7 linked regions of the Homo sapiens genome follow. The protein of the gene in region 5 interacts with the protein of the main gene of each other region in a pairwise test. Each region holds a gene or a part of one and is shown on either strand. Other genes may lie near its edges. The genes, in order: CHCHD2, YJU2, CHIC2, CDK18, REL, UBASH3B and PELI2.

What was found.
Region 1: the proteins of REL (region 5) and CHCHD2 interact in binary tests that used the Homo sapiens proteins (3 or more experiments, as listed by UniProt).
Region 2: the proteins of REL (region 5) and YJU2 interact in binary tests that used the Homo sapiens proteins (3 or more experiments, as listed by UniProt).
Region 3: the proteins of REL (region 5) and CHIC2 interact in binary tests that used the Homo sapiens proteins (3 or more experiments, as listed by UniProt).
Region 4: the proteins of REL (region 5) and CDK18 interact in binary tests that used the Homo sapiens proteins (3 or more experiments, as listed by UniProt).
Region 6: the proteins of REL (region 5) and UBASH3B interact in binary tests that used the Homo sapiens proteins (3 or more experiments, as listed by UniProt).
Region 7: the proteins of REL (region 5) and PELI2 interact in binary tests that used the Homo sapiens proteins (3 or more experiments, as listed by UniProt).

The regions. Positions count from the first base shown.
Region 1 is NC_000007.14:56,103,677-56,107,712, forward strand, and holds the start of CHCHD2 (coiled-coil-helix-coiled-coil-helix domain-containing protein 2 isoform 2 precursor), read right to left. Parts: upstream 2,801-4,036; 5' UTR 2,738-2,800; coding exon 2,688-2,737; intron 800-2,687; coding exon 550-799; intron 1-549. UniProt on the Homo sapiens protein: Transcription factor. Binds to the oxygen responsive element of COX4I2 and activates its transcription under hypoxia conditions (4% oxygen), as well as normoxia conditions (20% oxygen).
Region 2 is NC_000019.10:4,264,080-4,266,833, reverse strand, and holds part of YJU2 (splicing factor YJU2), read right to left. Parts: intron 1-2,754.
Region 3 is NC_000004.12:54,054,606-54,058,105, forward strand, and holds part of CHIC2 (cysteine-rich hydrophobic domain-containing protein 2), read right to left. Parts: intron 1-3,500.
Region 4 is NC_000001.11:205,521,669-205,525,168, reverse strand, and holds part of CDK18 (cyclin-dependent kinase 18), read right to left. Parts: intron 2,023-3,500; 5' UTR 2,002-2,022; coding exon 1,872-2,001; intron 1,687-1,871; coding exon 1,544-1,686; coding exon of another isoform or gene 1,454-1,543; intron 938-1,453; coding exon 812-937; intron 31-811; coding exon 1-30. UniProt on the Homo sapiens protein: May play a role in signal transduction cascades in terminally differentiated cells.
Region 5 is NC_000002.12:60,919,574-60,923,073, forward strand, and holds part of REL (proto-oncogene c-Rel), read left to right. Parts: intron 1-467; coding exon 468-536; intron 537-809; coding exon of another isoform or gene 810-905; intron 906-1,000; coding exon 1,001-1,069; intron 1,070-2,189; coding exon 2,190-2,962; 3' UTR 2,963-3,500. UniProt on the Homo sapiens protein: Proto-oncogene that may play a role in differentiation and lymphopoiesis.
Region 6 is NC_000011.10:122,658,722-122,662,221, reverse strand, and holds part of UBASH3B (ubiquitin-associated and SH3 domain-containing protein B), read right to left. Parts: intron 1-3,500. UniProt on the Homo sapiens protein: Interferes with CBL-mediated down-regulation and degradation of receptor-type tyrosine kinases. Promotes accumulation of activated target receptors, such as T-cell receptors and EGFR, on the cell surface.
Region 7 is NC_000014.9:56,296,411-56,299,217, forward strand, and holds part of PELI2 (E3 ubiquitin-protein ligase pellino homolog 2), read left to right. Parts: intron 1-189; coding exon 190-756; 3' UTR 757-2,807. UniProt on the Homo sapiens protein: E3 ubiquitin ligase catalyzing the covalent attachment of ubiquitin moieties onto substrate proteins. Involved in the TLR and IL-1 signaling pathways via interaction with the complex containing IRAK kinases and TRAF6.

The sequences.
Region 1 (4,036 bases), on a different chromosome or scaffold from region 5:
CAAATAAAGTGGAATTATTATCTTGTTATCAAGACTAAATGGTTTACTGAAGCTTCAGGGAGGAAAAATGGTACTATTATAGAAAACTGGATGGAGCAGTTTCAAGCACACCGGAAATACAAGAGTATACACACCTATGCTCATTAGACTAGAAAGCCCACACACATCAGAAAGATGGGTAATGGCAAACATCACGTAAAAGAACACACAGCTATGCGAGATTTTTGATTTGTTAACTAAGATCAAGACAAGATTAGTAGGAAGTGTCACTGGGATGAAATATTCAAAGGGAAAAGTGGTTGTTTTACAGTGAGTCAAGTGGACTGTTGTAAGTCTCCTCCTTGGGAAGAAACACAATTTGTACAGTACTTGTTGGTGCTGGCCTAAGGCAGTAACTCAACGGCCAAATGTGGCTTTAAAACCCATTGTCTATTAACAGCACAGTGGGTTCTAAAATCAAAGACAATTCCTACACTTAAGGAACTTACAAACGTCTGGCTTTTCTCATAAAATCCACCCATGGAAGGGAAATGCTGCCTAAATTCCCACCTGGTAAGTGATGTCAGGCCTCGCAGGCTCAGCATTACTTCCTCCACTGAAGCCCCCAGTAATGGCGTGACCCAATGTGTGCCCCACAGCAGAGCCCACAGCCACGCCAGCTGCAGTGGTTGCCATCTGGGCCATCAGACCTGGCTGCCGGGGCGCAGCAGCAGAAGAGCCAACTGCAGATGGGGGTGCCGCTGCTGGTGGCTGAGCGACTGGTGCTGGCCTGGGTGCAGCTCTCATCTGAGGGGCCCGGCTGTGAAAGAAAAGAAAAAAACATCAAGTTCCCAATTCCAACCAGTTTTGGAAATTGTCAACTTAAAATAACTTACATATTAAAATGGACCTCAAGATTTTCATTTCAAATTATTTACATCATTTTCTCTCTTCAATTTTTTTTTTTTTGAGATGGAGCTTCGCTCTTGTTGCCCAGGCTGGAGTGCAATGGTGCAATCTCAGCTCACTGCAACCTCCACCTCCCAGACTCAAGCGATTCTCTTGCCTCAGCCTTCCGAGTAGCTGGGATTACAGGCACCCGCGACCACCTCCGGCTAATTTTTTGTATTTTTAGTTGAGACGAGGTTTCACTATGGTGACCATGGCTGGTCTCCAGCTCCTGACCTCAGGTGATCCACCCGCCTCGGACTCCCAAAGTGCTGGGATTACAGGTGTGAACCACCACGCACGGCCTAATTTTTTTTTTTTTTTTGAGACAGGGCCTCACTCTGATGCCCAGACTGGAGTGCAGTGTCACGATCCAATCTCACTGCAACCTCTGCCTCCTGGGTTCAACCGATTCTTCTGCCTCCGCTTCCCAAGTAGCTGGGATTACAGGCGCGCACCACCACACCTAGCTAATTTTTGTATTTCTAGTAGAGACGGAGTTTCACCATGTTGGCCAGGCTCGTCTCGAACTCCTGACCTCAAGTGATCCACCCGCCTCGACCTCCCAAAGTGTTGGGATTACAGGCATGAGCCACCACGCCCGGCCACTTTAATCTTTTCTTATAATAGTAATAGCCTAGGACATACTAGTTTTTTCTGCTTCTTTGCAACAATTTCCATGTATTCGGATAGCCCACAGTATCTTTAAAGACATATCCAACATGTCATAAGAAATACAGACTACTAAAAGTTAGAAAGATTCTTACAGGATTCATTCATTCAAGTATTAGGTAACTACAAGGCGCTGGTAATGTAACTGTGAACAAGAGACAAAAATCTCTGCATTCATGGAGTTTACATTTTATTGACGGATCAAATAATTAACATAGGCTGCGGAGTGGTGGCTCTTGCCTGTAATCCCAGTGATTAGGGAAGTGGAGGCGAAAGGATCATTTGAGGCCAGGACTTTGAGACCAGCCAGGGCCACATAATGAGACCCTGTCTCTGCTAAAATATAAAATAGAATAAAGTCGCCAAGTGTGGTGCACAGGTGGCGCATGCCTGTAGTCCCAGTTACTCTGGAGGCTGACGTGGTAGAATAGCTTGAGCCCAGGAAGTCAAGGCTGCAGTTAGCCATAATTACGTCACTGCACTACAGCCTGAGTTAGACTCTGACTCAAAATATAAATAAATAAACATTCTAATTAGGACTTAAAGATGGTCAACTGGGGAAATAATCTAGTCCAATTCCTTCATTTTACACATTACAAAACAAGACTGGCCAAAGTGACTCGTCTGAACTATTATACCAAAAGCAACTTCAACTATTCCTCATCTGTTCAACGTTCAGATGCTTTCAACAATTTCGAGACCCCTTCTCAAATAACAAAAGACTAATTATGTCCTGCACGTATTTAAAAATCTTCATATGTATCACGCTCCCTCTGACCATTTCCGGATTATTTCCTTGGGTGCTCTTTTCCCCGAAATCAAGCTAGGTCAAAATTTATGCCTTCCTACCACCTGGCCATAACGTTATGCCTTTCCCGTTGTTTGGATAGGAAGCTTTTTCCGTAAGTGAATTCCCTCCCCACACTCCCCTAACATAGGCTTTACGTTCAATCTACCCCCGCCTGGCAGAGGCGAGCCCACGCCGCAGCCGACCTTAGTTCACCCCCGCCCGCGGCCTCCCTCTGCGTCATTGCCCCAGTAGAGTCCGGACGGCCGCGCTTTGGTCTCAAACCCTGCGATGGTCTCACCTGGCCGGAGGGGCCATGCGGGAGGTGCGGCTTCGGCTTCCACGCGGCATCCTAGGTAAGCGACGGCTAGGCCTCCGGACGTGGGACAACCACCGAAGAGCTAAGCGACTTCTGAGGAGACCGGAAGATGGGAGGCGGGGCTGGCCTCAACGCGCAACCAACCAGCACACAGGCAGAGAACTTCCGTTCTCCGTCGTCTCCGCAGGCCTGAAGTTCATTGGAAGAGCAGGACGTCACGGGGACGCCTCGTCCTTCGCGGTCAACGCCCTGAACTTGGCGCCAGGATCTTTAAAACCCGGAAGTTCCTGTGGTTCATCCGCGAACCTTGTCCTCCGGTCCTCGCATCAGAGCACTTAGCATTTTGCTTCCCTAGGGCAGCTGGCCTGTCGCTCCGTCCTTCAAACATTTGTATTAAATCCAACCTTAAGAGTGACTCACATCTCTGGCTGGATTGCCAGGGGACCTTGGGCAGATTTCTTAGCCTTTCTGAGCATTCAGTTATAAGGGCAAATATTTTTGGAGGCACAGTGTGGACGCGTAGTATGAACTGAATGAAAGAAATCGGTTTCGTCAAAAATAAACAGAGTTGAATTAGTTGTATTTGGTATTTCTCTTTCTTGTCTGTGGATCCAGTCAGCAAAAGTTAAATTCAGGCAGCAATAATGTTTTACATTTATGTATTACTATATATTTTCAGCTCCTTTTCATATGTATTATAGAATTTGTGTCCAGAATTGGGACAGTAACCATACACTGGTAAATTCAACAAAAATTTACTGTCTAACTGGGTTATGGAGATACTGCACCAAATCAGATAAGATTCTACCTTCACGAAGTTAAGTTTCAAGGAGGGGAGACACAAACGCCTACGTAAATCAGGTGGTGGTGACATGAAAAGAGAGGAAGGAGACTGGAAATTAGAGGTTAGGCGGGGCGGGGGGGAGTCATTTGAACGGAGCCCTTGAAGAGGTGGGGAAGCAAGCCATGTGTTTATGAAGATAAGAACACTACAGGAAGAGAGAACAGCAATTGCAAAGGCCCCAAGGATCTGTGCTTTAGTGATACTTGGTGTGAAATGCTTTTTTTTTTTTTTTGAGACGGAGTCTGGCTCTGTCGCCCAGGCTGGAGTGCAGTGGCGCGTTCTCAGCTCACTGCAGCCTCCGCCTCCCGGATTCAAGCGATTCTCCTGCCTCAGCCTTCCGAGTAGTTGGGATTACAGGCGCACGTCAACCCGCCTGGCTAATTTTTTATTTTAGTAGAAACAGGGTTTCGCCATGTTGGTCAGGCTGGTCTTGAGCTCTTGACCTCAGGTGATCCATCTACCTCGGCCTGCAAGGGCTGGGATTACA
Region 2 (2,754 bases), on a different chromosome or scaffold from region 5:
AACATTTTTAATTTTTGTAGAGACGGGATCTCGCTATGTTGCCCAGGCTGGTCTCAAACTCCTGGCTCAAGCGATCCTCCCGTCTCAGCGTCCCAAAGAGCTGGGATGACAGGCGTGAGCCACTGCATCTAGCCTCTTCAATCTGTTTTATGTTTAAATAGAGGAAGTGGTAACCACTGGGTTAAGGAAGTCCCAATGGGTGCTCTGCCCTCACGGAGCTCACCGTGTGGGGAGGGAGAGGGACAAGGAGACCAATACCCAGGATAACATCCATCTGGGTGAGAGAGAAGCCAGGGTGCGTGAGCTTGAATTGTGAGGATGAGCTTCTCAGAGGAAGGGCGTCTTGCATTGGGTATTGAAGGGCGAGTAGGAGTTCACCAAGCGAGTGCTTGGCAAAGGGGGCATCCCAGGTAAGGGGAATGGCATGGGTAAAGGCGTGATGAGAAGCCACAGTGTGATTCAGGAAGTGCCAGGGCAGGCTAGGTGGGATGGAGAATGGGCAGAGACCTTGAGTGCCAAGCTGACGGTGTGAGGGGCGGCCACTGCTAAGGTGGTGGAGAGGCCTCCTTAAAGTTGTGGCTCTGGGCCGGGCGCAGTGGCTCATGCTTCTAATCCCGGCACTTTGGGAGGCCAAGGCAGGTGGATCACGAGGTCAGATAGAGACCATCCTGGCTAACACGGTGAAAGCCCGTCTCTACTATAAATACAAGAAATTAGCCAGGCTTGGTGGCACACGCCTGTAATCCCAGCTACTCGGGAGACTGAGGCAGGAGAATCGCTTGAACCTGGGAGGCAGAGGTTGCAGTGAGCCGAGATCGTGCCACTGCACTCCAGCCTGGGTGACAGGGCGAGACGCCGTCTCGAAAAAAAAAAAAAAAAATGTCGTAGCTCTGGGCTGATGTCAAAATGAGGAAAAGAAGTCAAAAGGCACAGATGGCCAGGCACAGAGGCACACACCTGTAATCCCAACACTTTGGGAGGCCGAGGCGGGTGGACCACTTGAGGTCAAGAGTTCGAGACCAGCCTGGTCAACATGGTGAAACCCCGTCTCTTTATTAATAAAAAGAAAATACAAAACCTAGCCAGGTGTGGTAGCACACGCCTGTAATCCCAGCTACTCAGGAGGCTAAGGCAGGACAATTGCTACAGGCTGGGAGCCGGAGGTTGCAGTGAGCCGAGACCGTGCCACTGCACTCCAGCCTGGGCGAAAGAACAAGACCGTCTCAAAAAAAAAAAAGTTACCTAGGTTAGTTCCCAAACCTGTTTCTACAGGTGGTACTCATCATCATTAAACTAAACTAAGGATTGGGAGGCCAAGGCGGGAGGACTGCTTGAGGATAGGAGTTTGAGACCAGCCTAGACAACATACAGACTCGCCTCTAAAAAAAAAAAAAGAAAAGAAAATTAAAAATTAGCTGGCTGTGGTGGCACACACTACACACTTGTGGGTCCCAGCTACTTGAGAGGCTGAGGTGGGAGGATCATTTGAGCCCAGGAGTTGGAGGCTGCAGCGAGCTGTGATCGCGTCACTGCACTCCAGCCTGGGTGACAGAGCAAGACCTCATCTCTAAAATAAAAATAAAATAAACCAAGAAAACGCAAGTGTGGAGATATTCCTTCCTATAAAAGTTAGGGTGAAGGTTTGAAAAGTCTTGATGAAGGTGAATCACGTTAAAACCAAATAAAACACCTGCTATCAAATCAGGTAGAGGCACAAGACTGAGGGAGTAAATCAAAAAAGGTTGGACTGCTTTCAAAGTACCTTTACTCTGTTGATTCATTCAAAAAAAAAAGAAAAGAAGAGAGGAAGTTGTAGACAATGAATTCTGGGAGTGGTTTATGTGAGAACCACAGTGTGAGAACTCTAATCAGAGGACACAGCTTCAAAGAAAATGTCTTTTAGAAAAATGTCTTGGGGCCAGACATGGTGGCTGATGTCTGTAATCCCTGTGCCTTGGCGGGAGAACTGCTTGAGGCCAGGTGCGTGAGACCAGCCTGGGCAACACAGCAAGACCGCATCTCTGCAAAAAGAATTTGAAAAATTAGGGGCCAGGCACAGTGGCTCACGCCTGTAATCCCAGCACTTTGGGCGGCCGAGTCAGGTGAATCACCTGAGGTCAGGAGTTCTAGATCAGCCTGGCCAACATGGTGAAACGCCATCTCTACTAAAAATACAAAAATTAGCCGGGCATGGTGGCAGGCGCCTGTAATCCCAGCTACTTGGGAGGCTGAGGCAGTAGAATCGCTTGAACCCGGGGGGCGAAGGTTGCAGTGAGCCAAGATCACACCACTGCACTCCAGCCTGGGCAACAAGAGTGAAACTGTCTAAAAAAAAAAAAAGAAAGAAAGAAAAGAAAAATTAGCCAGGCGTGGTGGTGCGTGCCTGTGGTCCCAGCTGCTCAGGAGACTGAGGTGGGAGGATTGCTTGAGCCTAGGAGGTTCAGGCTGCAGTGAGCTGGGACTGCATTACTGCACTCCAGCCTGGGCAACAGAGTAAGACCCTGTGTCAAACAAACAAACAAAAAAGGAAGAAAGAACAATCGTTTCTTTTTTTTTTTTTTTTTTTTTTTTTGAGACAGAGTCTCGCTCTGTCGCCCAGGCTGGAGTGCAGTGGCACAATCTCGGCTCACTGCAAGCTCCACCTCCTGGGTTCACGCCATTCTCCTGTCTCAGCCTCCTGAGTAGCTGGGACTACAGGCGCCCGCCACCACGCCCGGCTAATTTTTTGTATTTTTAGCAGAGATGGGGTTTCAC
Region 3 (3,500 bases), on a different chromosome or scaffold from region 5:
TCTGTTACTCCGCATGCCTAACTAGGAACTCCCTATACTTTGGCTAATTAGATCACAAGTGGGCATCTGCTTTAAGAACAGCTAATCCCTGGGCTGGGTAGCAGCACATGGAATGGCAAGGCCAAACAGTCCTGCCTAACTTAGATAACATTAACTAACTCAATCAGCTCTCTCTTGAGGTATCTGAACATAAGACAAATAGATGGTAACATGCAGAGCTGACAGAGAGAGGGCTTAAATTGAAGTCAAGATGTAGTAAAGCCATCGATAATTAGAAATCAAAATAAACTGAAGCCAATAGTAAGCAGAAACTGAGATCACCAGACAAGTAATGATGGGCCAGATCAGGGAGGGTCTGGTAGAACATTAAAAGGACTCTGAAGGAGATGGGGAACCTTTGAGGGGCCTGATACAGAGAAAAGACTTGAACTGACTTATGTTTTAAAAGGATCACTATAGCAGATGTACCAAAATGGTTGTATAAGAGGAGAGGCAAAGGTGGAAAGGTGGAGACAGGGGGAAGAAAAAAATATATATATATTTTTTGTAATTTAGATGGATTCTTGCTATGTTGCCCAGTGTAGTCTCAAACTCCTGGGCTCAAGTGATCTTTCTGCCTCAGCCTCCCGTGTAGCTGGGATTATAGGTACATGCCACCATAACTGACTTAAGAAATACATTAAGCGTAAGGCAGAAGGGAGACTGGCAATTCACTCCAGTCGTGTAGGTGGCAAAATAGGGCCAAATTTTGAAGACAGAGCCAAGATGTCAAGACAGAATGGATGTAGTGAAAGAGAAAGAGGAAAATCAAGAATACATCAAAAAGTTTTTGATCTAAACAAACAGGGTCCTCGATCTGCCATCAACTGAGAATGGAAGGCTGCCGTTGAAGCTGATTTGGGGTGTAGATTATGAATTCCATTTTGGATATTCTGGATTCTGAGACATTCCACCTGTACAAATCTATAGATACAGAGAATTTTTATGTTCCTACAGATATGACAAGACCTATGAGCATATGAACTAGAAATTTCAAACTGAACATATTGGTTATGCAGATGGCACATGAAGAGAGTGCTTATTTCCTAATGTTGAACTTTGAGCTCAATGAACTCAAATTTTTAGCTAGTTTTGGAGATAAAGTCATAACTATGGAAAAAAATTAACAGGCTTTGATGCATATAAATCATGCTTTAAGTTTATCTGGTTGATTCAACATACGTCTGAATATCAATGTAGCTCAAGGAGGATGGGATCTAATTGAAAGTATACTCTATTTATACAAAAGATACAGAGACCCTGGAGTTGGAGACGTATATTTGGGTTTCAGAATAATTCTAAAAATCTTAACTCTGTAACCACATTCTGAACAATATTTGAGTTCATCTGGTTTTATGAAAGTTTAATCTCATTCAGGAAACTAGTGAAATCAAAGACTTAATTCTCCAAAGCATGTGTTAAATTTACTCTATCATAAACCTCACCATTATACATAGTCTTATAATAATCTAGCATTAGCATTTTATCAATTTTTAATTATTAAGGTTATAATTTCCATTATTAACAGATTAAATATGTTGTTAAGCAGTGAAAGCTATATAAGTGTATACTGATGAAAATGCACAGTATAACTAACTTCTGGCGATATAGGGATGCAGCTGATCTAACTTAACAACTTTTAAATTTTCTGAACTACAGAAAAAAGATTTTTGTATATCTGATTTATACATATTTTAGAATATTCTTCATACTTCTATAAATCTTAAGAGCAAAATAATGATGCTAAATTATGTTCATTTAAGCAAAATATATGGTTGAATTGATTTACAATATAGACTAACAAAAATACTCATTTCAAGTAACATTTATAATTGAGCAGTTTAGAAAAGACCAAGAAAGGAGACTGGGTACATAGGAACTCCACCACTGAACTAACCAAGGCCCACATTATGACTACAATGCAAGATCAAAGAGAATAAAACAAGAAGTTCTTGCAGGAAGCTCACTATATATAGTACATTCACTTTTTTTATCAATCAAAATAACAAAGTTAGGTTACCTTCAAGTCCAACCAACTCTATCCTAAGTAGATAGTGGGAGAGAAAAAAAGCTTAAGAACAAAAAAATTATTCTTCAGGGACACTGTGAGAACATTTCAGCTCCTACGGATGCAACTGAGTTTTAAATGTAAGATATAAAAAACACAATTTTTTTCCTCAAATCTAATGAATCATGTACTGAGGGCTGTCACATACTACACACCTTACAGCTAAAGGATATCACATTTACGAGGGTTCCCACTTCAAAATCTATGATCTTGTGGGAAACACTCTCTACTTCTGGCATGTGCTATTCTCTTGGCATACTAGCTGCCCCAGCAGCAGAACAGAAAGTGCAGGTATGCCATCAAAATCACTCCCAGTGAACAGTAAGGGTAGCCAGTTATTTAACCTCAGCCTACACAAAGCTAAAATTAAAAAATAAACAGACCAAAACAAACATAAGAACTGAGGAATTAGACAGCAAAAGTGGCCACTGCTATGTATTTCCATACCTCATAGGAAAAGCTGTGAAATTTGATGGTTTACACACAGAACTGTAATAACTCCTTTAATCTAGAGATCAACACCCTAGCTGGGGCCACTATCATGTCTTATGGAAGCTGCTTCTATAACCTTCTAAATTTCATTCTAATTCCTTTACAATCCTTTCTGGCCCCTACTGAACCCTCCAACCTCATTTCAAGACATTATCCCCTTTGTTCACTATATTCTAGCCATAATATAGAGGTATCCTTTCAGTTCCTCAGGCAAGTCAAGCTTGTTTTGGCTTGGAGTCTTGGCACCTGCTGTTCTCCAGATCCAGGGGCTCCTGACAGGACTCTCATCCTTCCTAAATGTTAGCTTCCTCAGAGAGGTTCTTCCTAATCACATTATTTTCAATCACAGGATCTCATCCATTTCCTTCAGTGCAACTTTATCAGATAAAATTTGTCTATTAGCTGTAAACTCCATGAGGGCAGAAACTATGTGTGTTTCATTTTGGGTTTCATTATATACCCAGAGCTTTGTGCAATACCTGGCAGAAAAATGGGCATTTAACAAATACTCATTAAATTACTTATCAGGAAACCTCAACAAGACAGCTGATAATCAAAGATTAAGCAAAAAATACTCTGAGAAAACAAAATAAATATTGTAAAACCCAAGCATCAAAACCCAAGCATCTACATTCAACAATCAGGATGAACTTCTCTTACTTTATATGCAGTTCTAATAAGGCTGGTTGGTTGTTTTGCTTCCAAGAACAGCTGACCAATTACAAAGACAGAAGAAAGCAAACCAAAAAGAACAGCCCACATATGAAATTTAAATGAAAGTGCCATTTAGAGAAGGTTCTCAAACTCCAACATACCTCAGGGCCACTAAGGCATCACTGTGTATCAATCTGATAGCCGCTTTTGATTAAATGATTCCTCTAGTCAATTAGATAATTCTGAG
Region 4 (3,500 bases), on a different chromosome or scaffold from region 5:
TGTTTCCAGTTTCCCAAAGCCAATGTCTGACTGAGAGGGAGAGACATAGAATGCCGTGAGCTTGAAGCCCTTAGCAGCTCCACAGACATGACGCCTCCCCCAACTCCAGCCTCTGGGAGGGAAGGGATGAGACTCCATGGTGGAAGGGGCTCCTTTTCCCTTTATCCCTGTGATAAAGGACAGAGCTCGTGAAAGTGTGAGTTTCTTCCTCCCAGGACAGCCAAGAGTGTAGAGCCCAGAGCTGTGGCACCTGGGATTGTTGCACATCTTGACTACCTGTGTCTCCGACTGAGACCACGAGCTCCTCCAGAGTGAGTGCTGCCTTTTTTCCCATTGTACCTTGAGTGTCCAGTTCAGAATCCACCTCTCTGACTGTGTCTCTCATCAGCGCACTTCTAGCTCAGGTGTATCCAACCCTTAACAAGACGGATTCCTGGACCCCCTAGCCGGAGAGGCTGATTCTATAGGTGTCTGGAGGTAGAGTCTGTGTTTTGTAAGATGTCCCAAACAGCTCTGATAGGCAGTTAGGACTGGAAGGCACATGCCAGCTGGCCTATTGATCTTAACCATGTGGAGACCGTGGGACCCACTGTGGGCTTAGAGTCCCATTCCAGCCCAAGTGAGACCCATCTAGGAAATGGATGTTGATGTAGGAGGACGAGCTAGTTGAATGCACTCAAGCCAGCAGGTGGCACCAGAGGCCCAGGAATCTTCCTCGAAATCCCATCTAGGCCTCAGCTGGGACTGATATGCCCATGCTGGGGAGGGCATATCACCCCACCTTGTGTCCTCTGACCCTCTTGGGACTCACCAGGGAGGCCCGGCGGGACATGCGGCTGAGCGGCTTGGGCAGATCTGGGCTCTCCATCTGTAGCTTCTGTAGGAATTCCTGGGGCAGGCGGATATCCATGGGCAGAGAGAGCCTCTTGCTGACGTCCTGTGGTGACAGGGATGAGATGGGGACACCACTGTTGGTTTCAGGGTAGCTAGGGCTGTGGGGCTCCAGACTTTCACTCTGGACCTAGCGTTCCCTGCAGAACAACCATTCAGAGCCCAATCACAGGCTGTGACCCCAGGCTCACAGCTGCTCCCAGTGTGTGCTCAAGACATACACGTGAACACCCGGGGCTGCTGTGTGACCTTAGCACAGCCAGGTCACTCTCTGCCTCTCTGGGCCACAGTATCACCATCTGTGCAACATCAGTCTCATGCCCTTACAGGCACCGATTCTGTAAGTATATTTTTTCATATACTTGGGCATATGTGTGTGGATCAAATAGTCAAATTGTCTAGCCCTTGCTAAATTCAGGAATGTTCTAAGCACTTGGCATAGATAAACCCATTTAATCCATGATGACCATTTTAAAGACAAGGAGACCATGGTGCACAGAGGTTGAGTAACTTGCTCAAAGTCACAGAGCTAATGAATGGCAGAGGTGGAATTTGAACTCACAAAGTCTGGCTGTAAGGCAGCTGCCCTCCTGTGCACACCCTTGTGCGTGCATCCTGCCACCTGCCGGGGCAGAGCTCCAGAGGCCCTTACCTCCATGGAGAAGCGGCGCTGGTTCTGCCGCCGCTGGAACTGCACGCCAGGGGAGAGCTGCCCCGGCTCCTCCCCGCTGTCTGTTGGGGAGAAGGTGCTGCACTCCTGCGGGGGGTCTCTGCCAAGAGGACCGAGCTGCAAGTCTAAGAGGGACAGGCGTCAGCTCCCCTCCCTGCCTCTCTGTCCTGAGGGAGAGAAGGGTAGCCCCCCTCCCCCAGCGCTGTGCTCCTCCCCTAAGGCCAGTGGGGAGGGGGTGGGCGGGGAGGGGAAGGTGACTGGGGAGTGTCTGGTAGGTGGGAGAGGTGCTGGGTGGGCCCAGACCCCTCACTCTCATTCCGCCGGTTGTGGAGCTGGTTGAATTGCTCCGTGAATTCAGCCAAGGATTCTTCAATGGTCTCAGTGCGGGGCACTGACAGGGAGAAACGGCGCTTAAAGTTCTTCATCTTGTTCATGATCATGAGGGACTGGGCAGCCGGGTCCTGAGATGGGAAGTGTGAGAAGAGCAGTTGAAAAGAACAAGGCAACCAGTCCAGGTCTCCACCCACTGGGAATTCAGCTCTCTCATCAAGCTCTGTCGCCCTGTATGCCACCATCACTGGGAGCCAGGGTTGTGTCTTCTGCAAAGTTTGACCCCTCTGAGGGTGGGTGTTCACCCTCTTCTTCCCAGTCACCTTCTTCCTCCCAGTGACCCTCAGCACTGCCTCCACTGCCCACCGCCCGCCCCGCCACGCCCTGTGCAGTTCTCTATGGACCACCTAGTCCAGCAAAGTATTGGTCATAATAGCAGGCATGATGTGCAAAGAGGATCCTGAAGGCCCCCCAGACCTAAGCCCTTTAGCTGCTGGAGGTCTAGAGAGTTCTGGGGGAAGGGCTGGGGTGGCAGGGAGGGTGCCAGAACCAGGCAGTCCTTGGACCAGCAGAAATTTACCAACTTGTGTCCAAGGGCCTGAATGTGTCAACAGCCAATAAATCTTACTGACCAAGGCCCGTAAACTGAATGTCAGCTTGGCCAACACCCTTGGGACATGATTGGGTCCAAACCTCATTTCACCTCTGATACTGACACCTGAAGGTCTCTGCTCTGGCATGCCCCAGGAGGCAAGAGGGGAAAAAGAGGAGGAAGGGAAGAGTGCATCAGAGCTGGCCAGCTGCACCTTCTCTCCAGCTGAAATACAGGAGGTCAGGAGCAGTGGAAGGTCTCAGGGGAAACACGGAAGCTTGCCATTAATAGAGTCGAGCCCTAGGGAAGATGAGGCTTGATCCCTGCAGGCCTCTTCCCATGCCAGAGCCCTCCAAGCAGGCAGGTATCCCCTACCGAGAACACCATGGAGGAGCGGGGTAAGCTGCTCTGCCCACCCCCACGGTCCTGTCCCCAACCATGAAAGCTTTCTTCTTCAGGCTACCCAGCTCCTCGTGCCCTCTGAATTAGAGGATGCCCTGCTGGCCACCCAATGAGACCCATGCAACTGCTTCTTCCTGCAGACCCTCCCTTCTCCCTCCTGCCCTGAAAACCCAGAGCAGCGCTGTCTCACCTCCCCTCCACTTCCCTTCATGGTTTCCTACACGCTCAGTGCAGCCCCCCTCTCATCCTGCTCTGCACACACTGCCCTTGAGGCCTCACAAGGGCTTCCACCCATGCTGGCAAGAAGGCACCAGGGGGTGAGCCCTATGATGGGCCGCCCTGCACCCGCTCCCAGCTGTTACCCATGCACCAGCACCAGGCACAGCCCACTCCTGGAGGATGCTCTCAGCCCTGCGACTGGCCAGCACCTAGTTGCCAAGGCGACCAGGCCCTTCCCGAATCCTCCTGGTTTAAGGGATTATGGGTCAGTAACATGTTGGCTTTGCTTAATGATCACATCCTTCTGTCCTCAGCCAGCCTGGAAAGGGTCCTCTGTCTGGCAGCGCATGCTCCTGGCTGCCCCCAAACACAGCTCAGTGGTGGCCCTCCAGCTGC
Region 5 (3,500 bases):
CGCCACCACACCCGACTCATTTTGTATTTTTAGTAGAGATGGGGTTTCACCATGTTGGCCAGGCTGGTCTCAAACTCCTGACCTCAGGTGATTCACCCACCTCAGCCTCCCAAAGTGCTGGGATTGCAGGTATGAGCCACTGCGCCTGGCCAATTTTTCTGTTTTTTTATGGAGACAGGGTTTTGTCATGTTGCTTAGGTTGGCCTCAAACTCCTGCGCTCAAGTGATCCACCTGCCTCAGCCTCCCAAAGTGCTGAGATTACTTTAAACAATTTTTTACTAAGAGAAAAATATCCTTTTCTACTGATACTACTGATTTGGGACATATTCTATAATACTTATTAAATCCAACTTACATACATATTTATTGAAAACATTTTCTATATGTGAATAAAATATTTGTTTATTAAAGGAGAGGATACAATCCTATAATTTTTTATCTGCTTTCCTGGTTTCTTTCTAATCAGATACTTACGGCAATAAAGCAAAGAAACAAAAGACAACTCTGCTTTTCCAGAAACTGTGCCAGGATCACGGTAAGAATAGTTTGGATCGATTCATATTTAAATAGGTTTTGTTTTATTTACTTTATTCAGTTTTTCAAATTTTATTATTTTTGTTTTGTTTTGTTGTTTGTTTGTTTTTTGAGATAGCATCTCTCTCTGTCACCCAGGCTGGAGTGCAGTAGGGCAATCTCAACTCACTGCAACCTCTGCCCCCCAGGTTCAACAATTCTCCTGCCTCAGCCTCCCGGGTAGCTGAGATTACAGGCATGTGCCACCACACCCGGCTAATTTTTGTATTTTTAGTAGAAACAGGGTTTCGCCATGTTGACCAGGATGGTCTTGAACTCCTGACATCAGGTGATCCACCCACCTTGGCCTCCCAAAGTGCTGGGATTACAGGTGGGAGCCACCACGCCCGGCCAGTTTTTCAGATTTTAACTGATAATGTTATTTTTCAAATGACATTTAATAATGGAAAAACTTTATCCTAACAGTTAATTTTCCTGAGAGACCAAGACCTGGTCTCCTCGGTTCAATTGGAGAAGGAAGATACTTCAAAAAAGGTATTTTATTTCCTATAGCATATTTCTTGTGATCAGAAAGACCAGTACTTTGCACAATATATTGGAATTCTATTTTTAGGAATGAATAACTGCTTCTTTGAAAATTTTCTCTCCAGATTTTTCATGCTTTCAGTATAGAATGAATTAAGCATGGCTTCTGAAGGTTGTGTTAGAAACTGATTATGTTTTTGGGATTTATTGTTCAAGAAATTACATGTTGTTCATATGGTAGCAATTTTATTAATTACATTGCGTTATGAAAAAATGTTACTGATTTGGTTAGTTACCTGTTTTTATAAATAACATTTTACTGGAACACGGCCATGAATATTTGATTAAATATTATCTCTAAACTGCTTTTTTTTTTTAACACTATGGCAACAGGGTTGAATAGTTCCAACAGAGGCTGTATATAGCTCACAAAGCCTAAAATATTTACAATCTGACTTTTTACAGAAAAAAAAATTGCCAATCCCTAGTTTAGGTAATTCAACCGAGGGCTAATTAGAAGAAGTCTTTTTTCCCCCACGTACATTCTTAAATCATTGCTTTTTCCTGGTTTAGTTTGTAAAGCATTTGTATAATATGTAAATAGATACAGAATTAATTTTTTCTGTAATTTTTTTCTGACTGTGAATTTTATAGTCTCTTAGGGTTCTGTTGTAATATATCTTAAAAGTTATGTGTATTTTCTTATCCCTAATGAGTGTTGTCTCCATCCTTCCATTTTCTCCTAAAAGTGAAGAGTAAGAGATGATTTTGGCTATTTGGAATCCCATTAATTGTAATTCTAATATTTATCTTTTAGTTTTCAAAAATACCTTTATAGAGCCTCAGAAACTAGATTTTCATATTTAATTGAAGTGAAATTACATATGCCAAAGTAACTTGCCAAAATCATTTTACCTGTATTTGTAAAATGGTATATACGTTACAGAATTTCATTTTGGATTCGTGTAATAATTTTAGTGCTTTTTACATTTTTTTATTTGAAATGTTACATTGGTTTCCTTGACATTTTTCTTTATATATATTTGTGTGCTTATGCAATTTTAATTTAGAAATGCTTTTTATAATTTTGTTCATTTTAATTTCGTAAAATAAATTTTTCCTCCCACAGAACCAAACTTGTTTTCTCATGATGCAGTTGTGAGAGAAATGCCTACAGGGGTTTCAAGTCAAGCAGAATCCTACTATCCCTCACCTGGGCCCATCTCAAGTGGATTGTCACATCATGCCTCAATGGCACCTCTGCCTTCTTCAAGCTGGTCATCAGTGGCCCACCCCACCCCACGCTCAGGCAATACAAACCCACTGAGTAGTTTTTCAACAAGGACACTTCCTTCTAATTCGCAAGGTATCCCACCATTCCTGAGAATACCTGTTGGGAATGATTTAAATGCTTCTAATGCTTGCATTTACAACAATGCCGATGACATAGTCGGAATGGAAGCGTCATCCATGCCATCAGCAGATTTATATGGTATTTCTGATCCCAACATGCTGTCTAATTGTTCTGTGAATATGATGACAACCAGCAGTGACAGCATGGGAGAGACTGATAATCCAAGACTTCTGAGCATGAATCTTGAAAACCCCTCATGTAATTCAGTGTTAGACCCAAGAGACTTGAGACAGCTCCATCAGATGTCCTCTTCCAGTATGTCAGCAGGCGCCAATTCCAATACTACTGTTTTTGTTTCACAATCAGATGCATTTGAGGGATCTGACTTCAGTTGTGCAGATAACAGCATGATAAATGAGTCGGGACCATCAAACAGTACTAATCCAAACAGTCATGGTTTTGTTCAAGATAGTCAGTATTCAGGTATTGGCAGTATGCAAAATGAGCAATTGAGTGACTCCTTTCCATATGAATTTTTTCAAGTATAACTTGCAAGATTTAAATCCTTTTAAATCTTGATACCACCTATATAGATGCAGCATTTTGTATTTGTCTAACTGGGGATATAATACTATATTTATACTGTATATATAATACTGACTGAGAATATAATACTGTATTTGAGAATATAAAAAACTTTTTTCAGGGAAGAAGCATACAACTTTGGACATAGCGAATACAAAATTGGAAGCTGTCATAAAAAGACAACTCAGAGGCCAGGCGCAGGGGCTCACACCTGTAATCCTAGCACTTTGGGAGGCCAAGGCGGGTGGATCACTTGAGACCAGGAATTCGAGACCAGCCTGGCCAACATGGTGAAACCCCGTCTCTACTAAAAATACAAAAATTAGCTGAGCATGGTGGTACGTGCCTGTACTGTCAGCTACTTGGGAGGCTGAGGCACAATAATTGTTTGAACCCAGGAAGCAGAGGTTGCAGTGAGCTGAGATCACACCACCGCACTCCAGCCTGGGTGACAGAGTGAGACTCTGTCTCAAAAAAAAAAAAACAAAAAAAACACACTTT
Region 6 (3,500 bases), on a different chromosome or scaffold from region 5:
AAAAGCACATCGGCTGGCCGGGCAGGGTGGCTCCCACCTGTAATCCCAGCACTTTGGGAGGCCAAGGCGGGATGATCACTTGAGGTCAGGAGTTCGAGACCAGCCTGACCAACATGATAAAACTCTGTCCCTACTAAAAATACAAAATTAGCTGGGCATGATGGCACATACCTGTAGTCCTAGCTACTTGGGAGGCTAAGGCAGGAGAATCACTTGACACCTAGGAGGCAGAGGTTGCAGTGAGCTGAGATCACGCCATTGCACTCCAGCTTGGGCAACAAGAACGAAACTCTGTCTCAAAAAAAAAAAAAAAAAGAAAAAAAGCATATCAAGGTATTTTTTTTTTTGTTTTTTTTTTTTTTGGAACCAGGACCTCGTGTAGCCTGGAAAGTTCAGGAGACTTGCAGTTTAGCCTGAGGCTCTTATGGCAATGCAGTCCCTGCATACCAACTGTGTGACTCTAGACACGTCCTGAACTCCTCTAAGCCTCCAGTCTCATCTTAAAACAAAGCATATGTTGTGTGCTTTACCTCACAAGACTGCTGTGGGGTATCTAATACACATAAGAGCAATTTTTACAGTGTATAATAACACAGATAGAAGGGCGTGTTATGTGGGTGCACAGTCACAGCAGGTAGATTAGAGACTTCCTTGCCCTGCCCACCTATAAGAGCCCTTCAGCTCCAGGTGGGTTCCAGTTTTTCCTCTTTCTGTCTATCCAAGGCTGGGAAAGCAGCTGCAGCCCCCACGCCAGAGTCAGCTACATTTCAGAGATGTTGGGTTGGCCAAGTGTTCTCAGAGGATCCAATGTCAACCAACAGGTAAGCTGGAAAAAGCCAGGGAAACCAGATACTTTAATTCATGGGCTCCACATGCCGCTTCTCAACTCCTCATGCAGCCAACTTGGAGCTGCTTTTATCTTTGGGCAGTGAGGCATAGCTAACACAGCTTACTGTCCAAAGCCAAGTCAAAAGCGCTCATTCCAGCTCTTTCCTTCTGCCACTGCCTTGCTCTTTAATTTGGCATTGTTCAAATATTCTCAGTAGAAAAAAAAGGACAATCCAATAATACACGTAAATCCTCGCCAGACACCTCAACCACCATCTCACCTCCTCTCCCTTCTTGCAATCCAACACAATAATGCCCCAATCACATCTTGCATCCTGATCCTATCTTTAACTTTCCCAAGTTCTTTTCTGTCTGTTATCTCATTTTGTCTTTGGAAAGGCCCGTGACACATGACAGGTCTTGCCACGCACAGAAGCTGGTGAAGATATTAAGGAAAAGAGGTTAAATAGAAGACCTAAAAGGTGCAGATATCATTCAGAAGCTAGACCAGACCTTAGGACCTTTGATCCCTGCCACAGTGTCCTTCCCAAGACTATTATCTCTTAATCACTGGAAACATTAAAAAGCCATTTGTTGTAGACAAAGTTCTAGCCACCAGCAGCCTCAAAAAATAAAAATAATAAAAAAACTCATCAGGGTTGTATCAGCAAGGATTCCTCCAATTCAATTATTCAGTGACTTGCTCCAAGGCCCAGCATCAGCCCCAAGCTACAGAAGAGATGAGAGCCTGTCTCCCCAGAAACCAGAGGTCAGCAGGGGGATGACAGTGCTCTGACATCGGATCTGGCTGTGCAAAGTGATGGCTCTGATCTGAGTCCTGTCCCATCTTCTCCGGTGTTAGGCTCAGACCCTCTCCTGGCCTGTGAGGTCTCCTCTTCCTCAGGTCTTTGCCCCCAATACATTCTTTCTTTTCCTTCCAACCAACCTCACTAGCCTCAAGGAAGCTGGACCCTTATTTTTAGAACCCTTAAAACAGGGAAGTGCTAGTGGGCATAGAAAAAAGGAAGCGATTGGCCATTTTGACCTTTGAAAGGTTTCCTTCCTGATGCCTCCCGAACACCTCCTTAACTTGGACTTGCACACGAGCGCACACGCACACACACACCGTGAAATCGCCACTTCTCAGTCCTCCATGAGGCAAATTCTCCTATAGCAGTGTCTAAGTTGGACTGAAGTTCATATAGTGGAATGGAAAAAACCTAGCCCAGCTCCAGGGAGTAATGAGCTAGAGAGAGCACACCCTGAGGTCACCCTGCTTGAGCCAGCCCTGCAGCCCTCTGGTCCTCTTAGCTCTGTCAAGCACTTAACAAGCATGCAGTCATTAATTGCGTTCCCCTCAGAGGGCAACAGCATGGCCCTGAGGGGACTAAGTGACTTTTGCAAGACCACAGCACAGTGCAGCCCAGCACGGGCTGGGTGGGATCCAGCCTTGCTGGCCTCAACCCTCTCTGCCAGCCCACCAAGAGCCTGGCCTGAGTGCCCCTTCTTGGTGCCGCACACCACCAGACCCAGTTACACCCATAGGGGAAACTAGAGCTGTCAGCCCTGGCTGCTGTCACTCTGTCAAAAGGGCCTAGAGCTGTCAGCCCTGGCTAATGTCAGTCTGTCAAAAGGGCCAGGTTTGAGACAACCATCTTACCCCTTCTTAAAGCATCACATCCAAGTCTTCTAGACCCAGGAGACCATCACTGCTCTTTGGGGCTTTGGATTTTCATTATGCTCAGCCCTCCAGGCATAAAGCTCAAGAGAGAAGCTTCTGATGAGCTAAGCCCGATGCCCTTGCTCTTTCTTCTCAACTCTCAAAAATGAAGTTAAATGCCTGTTCTCTGAAGCCTCCGAGGGCCCCTCTTCATACTGGTCTAAGTTACTGGGGGGAAGGCCGACCACATCAGCCTTTCTGGGTTGAAGTAGAGGAGGGAAGCAAGCCTGGGCAAGGAGTCCAACTAGATCAGGTGACCTCCAGGACCTTCACTCCCTTCCAGGCAGAGAATTTAAGAAAAAGAGCAGCAAACCCAACCTCCCTCTCTCCAGGCCTGCTCTTGTTACCTCTTTGGTAAAGAGGGGCAGTGCTAGTAGTAATATAATAATAGCTGTGATAGGCTAAATAATGATCCCCCAAAAGACACCCACATCCTAATCCCTAGAAGCTGTGAATGCCGCCTTATACATTTTTTTTTAAAGGACTTTGCAGATAATGATCTTGAGATGGGGAGATTACTCTGGATTATCCAAGTGGGCCCTAAGTACAACCACATGTATCCTTATAAGAGACATGCCAAGGAAGATTGGACACAGACAGAAAACAAAGACAATTTGACCACAAACGCAGTGATTGGATTGATGCAGCCACAAGCCAAAGAATGCCAGCCCCCAACAGAAGGTAGGAGAGGCAGGGAGTGGATTCCCCTAGAGCCTCCAGAGGGAGCACGGCCCTGCTGATGCCTTGATTTCAGCCCAGCGATACTGATTTTCAACTCCTGGTCTCTACAATTGTGAGAGAATAAATTTCTGCTGTTCTAAGCCACTCAGTTTGTGACAATTTGTTACAGCAGTCACAGGAAGCTAATACAGTAACTAACACTTCACGATTGCTCACTATGTGCCAGGAACTGTTCTAAGCATTTTACCCACATTCAATCATTTCTATCCTG
Region 7 (2,807 bases), on a different chromosome or scaffold from region 5:
TATCCAGTGATCAGATGAGGAAGATGAGGCTCGGGGAGGATAGGTTACTCCCCCAGTTCTGTTTTTGTGGGATAAATTGCTTCCCTGTGTTATCTTCAAATATTTTTTTGCTTGTTCTGAGAGGAAAGAATCTTGGAGTGATTTGCTTGATTTTGCTTTTAAAAGGCATGTGTCTCAAACTTGTTGTAGGTGGAAAGTGAGACCAACGTCCTGCAGGACGGCTCCCTCATTGACCTGTGTGGGGCCACTCTCCTCTGGAGAACAGCAGATGGGCTTTTTCATACTCCAACTCAGAAGCACATAGAAGCCCTCCGGCAGGAGATTAACGCCGCCCGGCCTCAGTGTCCTGTGGGGCTCAACACCCTGGCCTTCCCCAGCATCAACAGGAAAGAGGTGGTGGAGGAGAAGCAGCCCTGGGCATATCTCAGTTGTGGCCACGTGCACGGGTACCACAACTGGGGCCATCGGAGTGACACGGAGGCCAACGAGAGGGAGTGTCCCATGTGCAGGACTGTGGGCCCCTATGTGCCTCTCTGGCTTGGCTGTGAGGCAGGATTTTATGTAGACGCAGGACCGCCAACTCATGCTTTCACTCCCTGTGGACACGTGTGCTCGGAGAAGTCTGCAAAATACTGGTCTCAGATCCCGTTGCCTCATGGAACTCATGCATTTCACGCTGCTTGCCCTTTCTGTGCTACACAGCTGGTTGGGGAGCAAAACTGCATCAAATTAATTTTCCAAGGTCCAATTGACTGACGCCCTTGACAGCCATCTACGACTTTATTAACAGGTTACTGTGAAGATTTTGCCACTAACTCTAGATTTTACCTTTTTGTAATGCTGTTTATCAGAGGAGGGTGACAGGGGCTGGAAATAAAGAGAGGGGACATGGTGATGAAACATGGCAGGAGTGTAACAGATACCAGTGGTGTGTTGCATGCTCAAAACAGCAGCGTCGTCATTGAAGTCTGCTTGATTAAACCATAATATCTTTGTAATAATTGGATTTAAAATGCTATGCTTCTATTTTTAACCTTGGGTTTTTAACCAAGTTTTTTTTTTTTTGTAATCTTGGACAAGACTTTAAATCATATTTTACAGATGTAGAAGAAATTTATTCAAAAGTGTGGGCTCATGAAGTTCACTTCAGTGCAGTGTGGTGTAGGTGTTACGCGAAGGGCGCACAGTGTCTAGAAATACTTGATCGTGGCTCAAACCTGACCAGACAGCAGAGGGGCGGCTCTGTACAGTGTGACTGGTGGACAGATGGCCTTAGGCACAGGTGGTTTTGAAATCTGGGGCTTTTTCTGATTTATTTTTCTGACTTGTTGGGGGAGAGAATATTCATAACTTGTGGGCTTTTTTTTTTTTTAACTTCAGTGGAATTTACTTTAGATATTCATTCATCAAATACATGGGACTTCACAAACAATTTTCCATAACTTTTTAGCCTGTCTTTTGTTATTTCTGCCTAATATGATTTGCCCCGATACTCATCTTGCACGGCCAGAACTGTTTGGTTGATTAAAATACATCAGCTCTTAAAAACTCATTAACTGAGGGTAATTACAGTAGTAGACATGGTCTGGGTACTATACTACCATGTTTATTTGCTGACTGAATTAAGATTTAAGAATGATTAAAAATAAGCTTTTACTTTTTAAAACCACTTGAGGTTTCATAAAGCTTGGGGTTTTTTTTTTTCCTTTGTTAAGAAAGCCAACCAATCACAATGATATAGTCATTGTTGTGCACTCCCTTTTCACCATCTGTCACCTTCCCTTGCAGCTTAAGGAGCCCAGTAAGTTTTGAAAATGTTTGCGAATCAAACTAAATTTAAGTGGGATGATTAGATATACACAACACCAAGTGGTACATCTGCAGAGATAATTCAAAATTCCTGCTTTTGAGAGAGCAAATGAGTGTTGCTGAGGAATAATTAAATGAGAATTTCATAGGAGCTCCACCATTCCTGTTACTTTCATTTCATTTTGATTAATAATTCTTGGATGCTTGGCATCGATCGTATCACTGCTCCTAGAAGGTAAAGATCCTTTAGGACATGAGACTGGTAGAAGCTGGCTGAGATAAAATAAGTATTTATTTAAACTAATGTTCTCTTAATTTGACCATTGCAGATTTGGGTGACTTTTTTTTAACCTTTGTACATATACGTAATTTATATGATTCTAATGTACTATATCCATACTTGAATTGGTTTTTTCGTATTTTGCCTACTGGCAAATATTTTGCCTATTTTCAGTCGTTCTAACCTATTTGAATACGCTTTTCCTTAAAGTGATACGATAATATTACTCTTGATTGCTGCTGCTTAATTTGATGTAATATGTTTAAAGTTCAGCCTCTCAGTTTTAATATAGCTTTATTTTTCAGTGGAGATCATTGTTTAGGATGAGACATTTTTGGTTTTGGTTTTGTTTGGGTAAATTTTAAATGGTGTGAAAATCGATGACAACAGTCCTCTTACAGATAGCTTGCTGTATTCTGTATAGCTTACTCTACCTGCAGACAGAAAATGAAAGAAAAAAATGGACTTGCCTAGAATAATATATTGAATGCCTTTTGATTTAGCCAGAGTCTCTGATGATTAGCTTTCACTGATAGAGTATGTCTTTTCAGCCTGTAATTCTTTGGGCCCCAAAGAATGACAAAGGAGGCACTCGTTCTCTTTTCTTGCTGTATGCCTAGAAAGTGGTTGAAGGATTCTTGATGCCCTAAAACCATCTTGTAAGCTAAATGGTCTTGCATCCAGAAAGGCCAGATTTTACCTACCAAGAAAAAAAGAT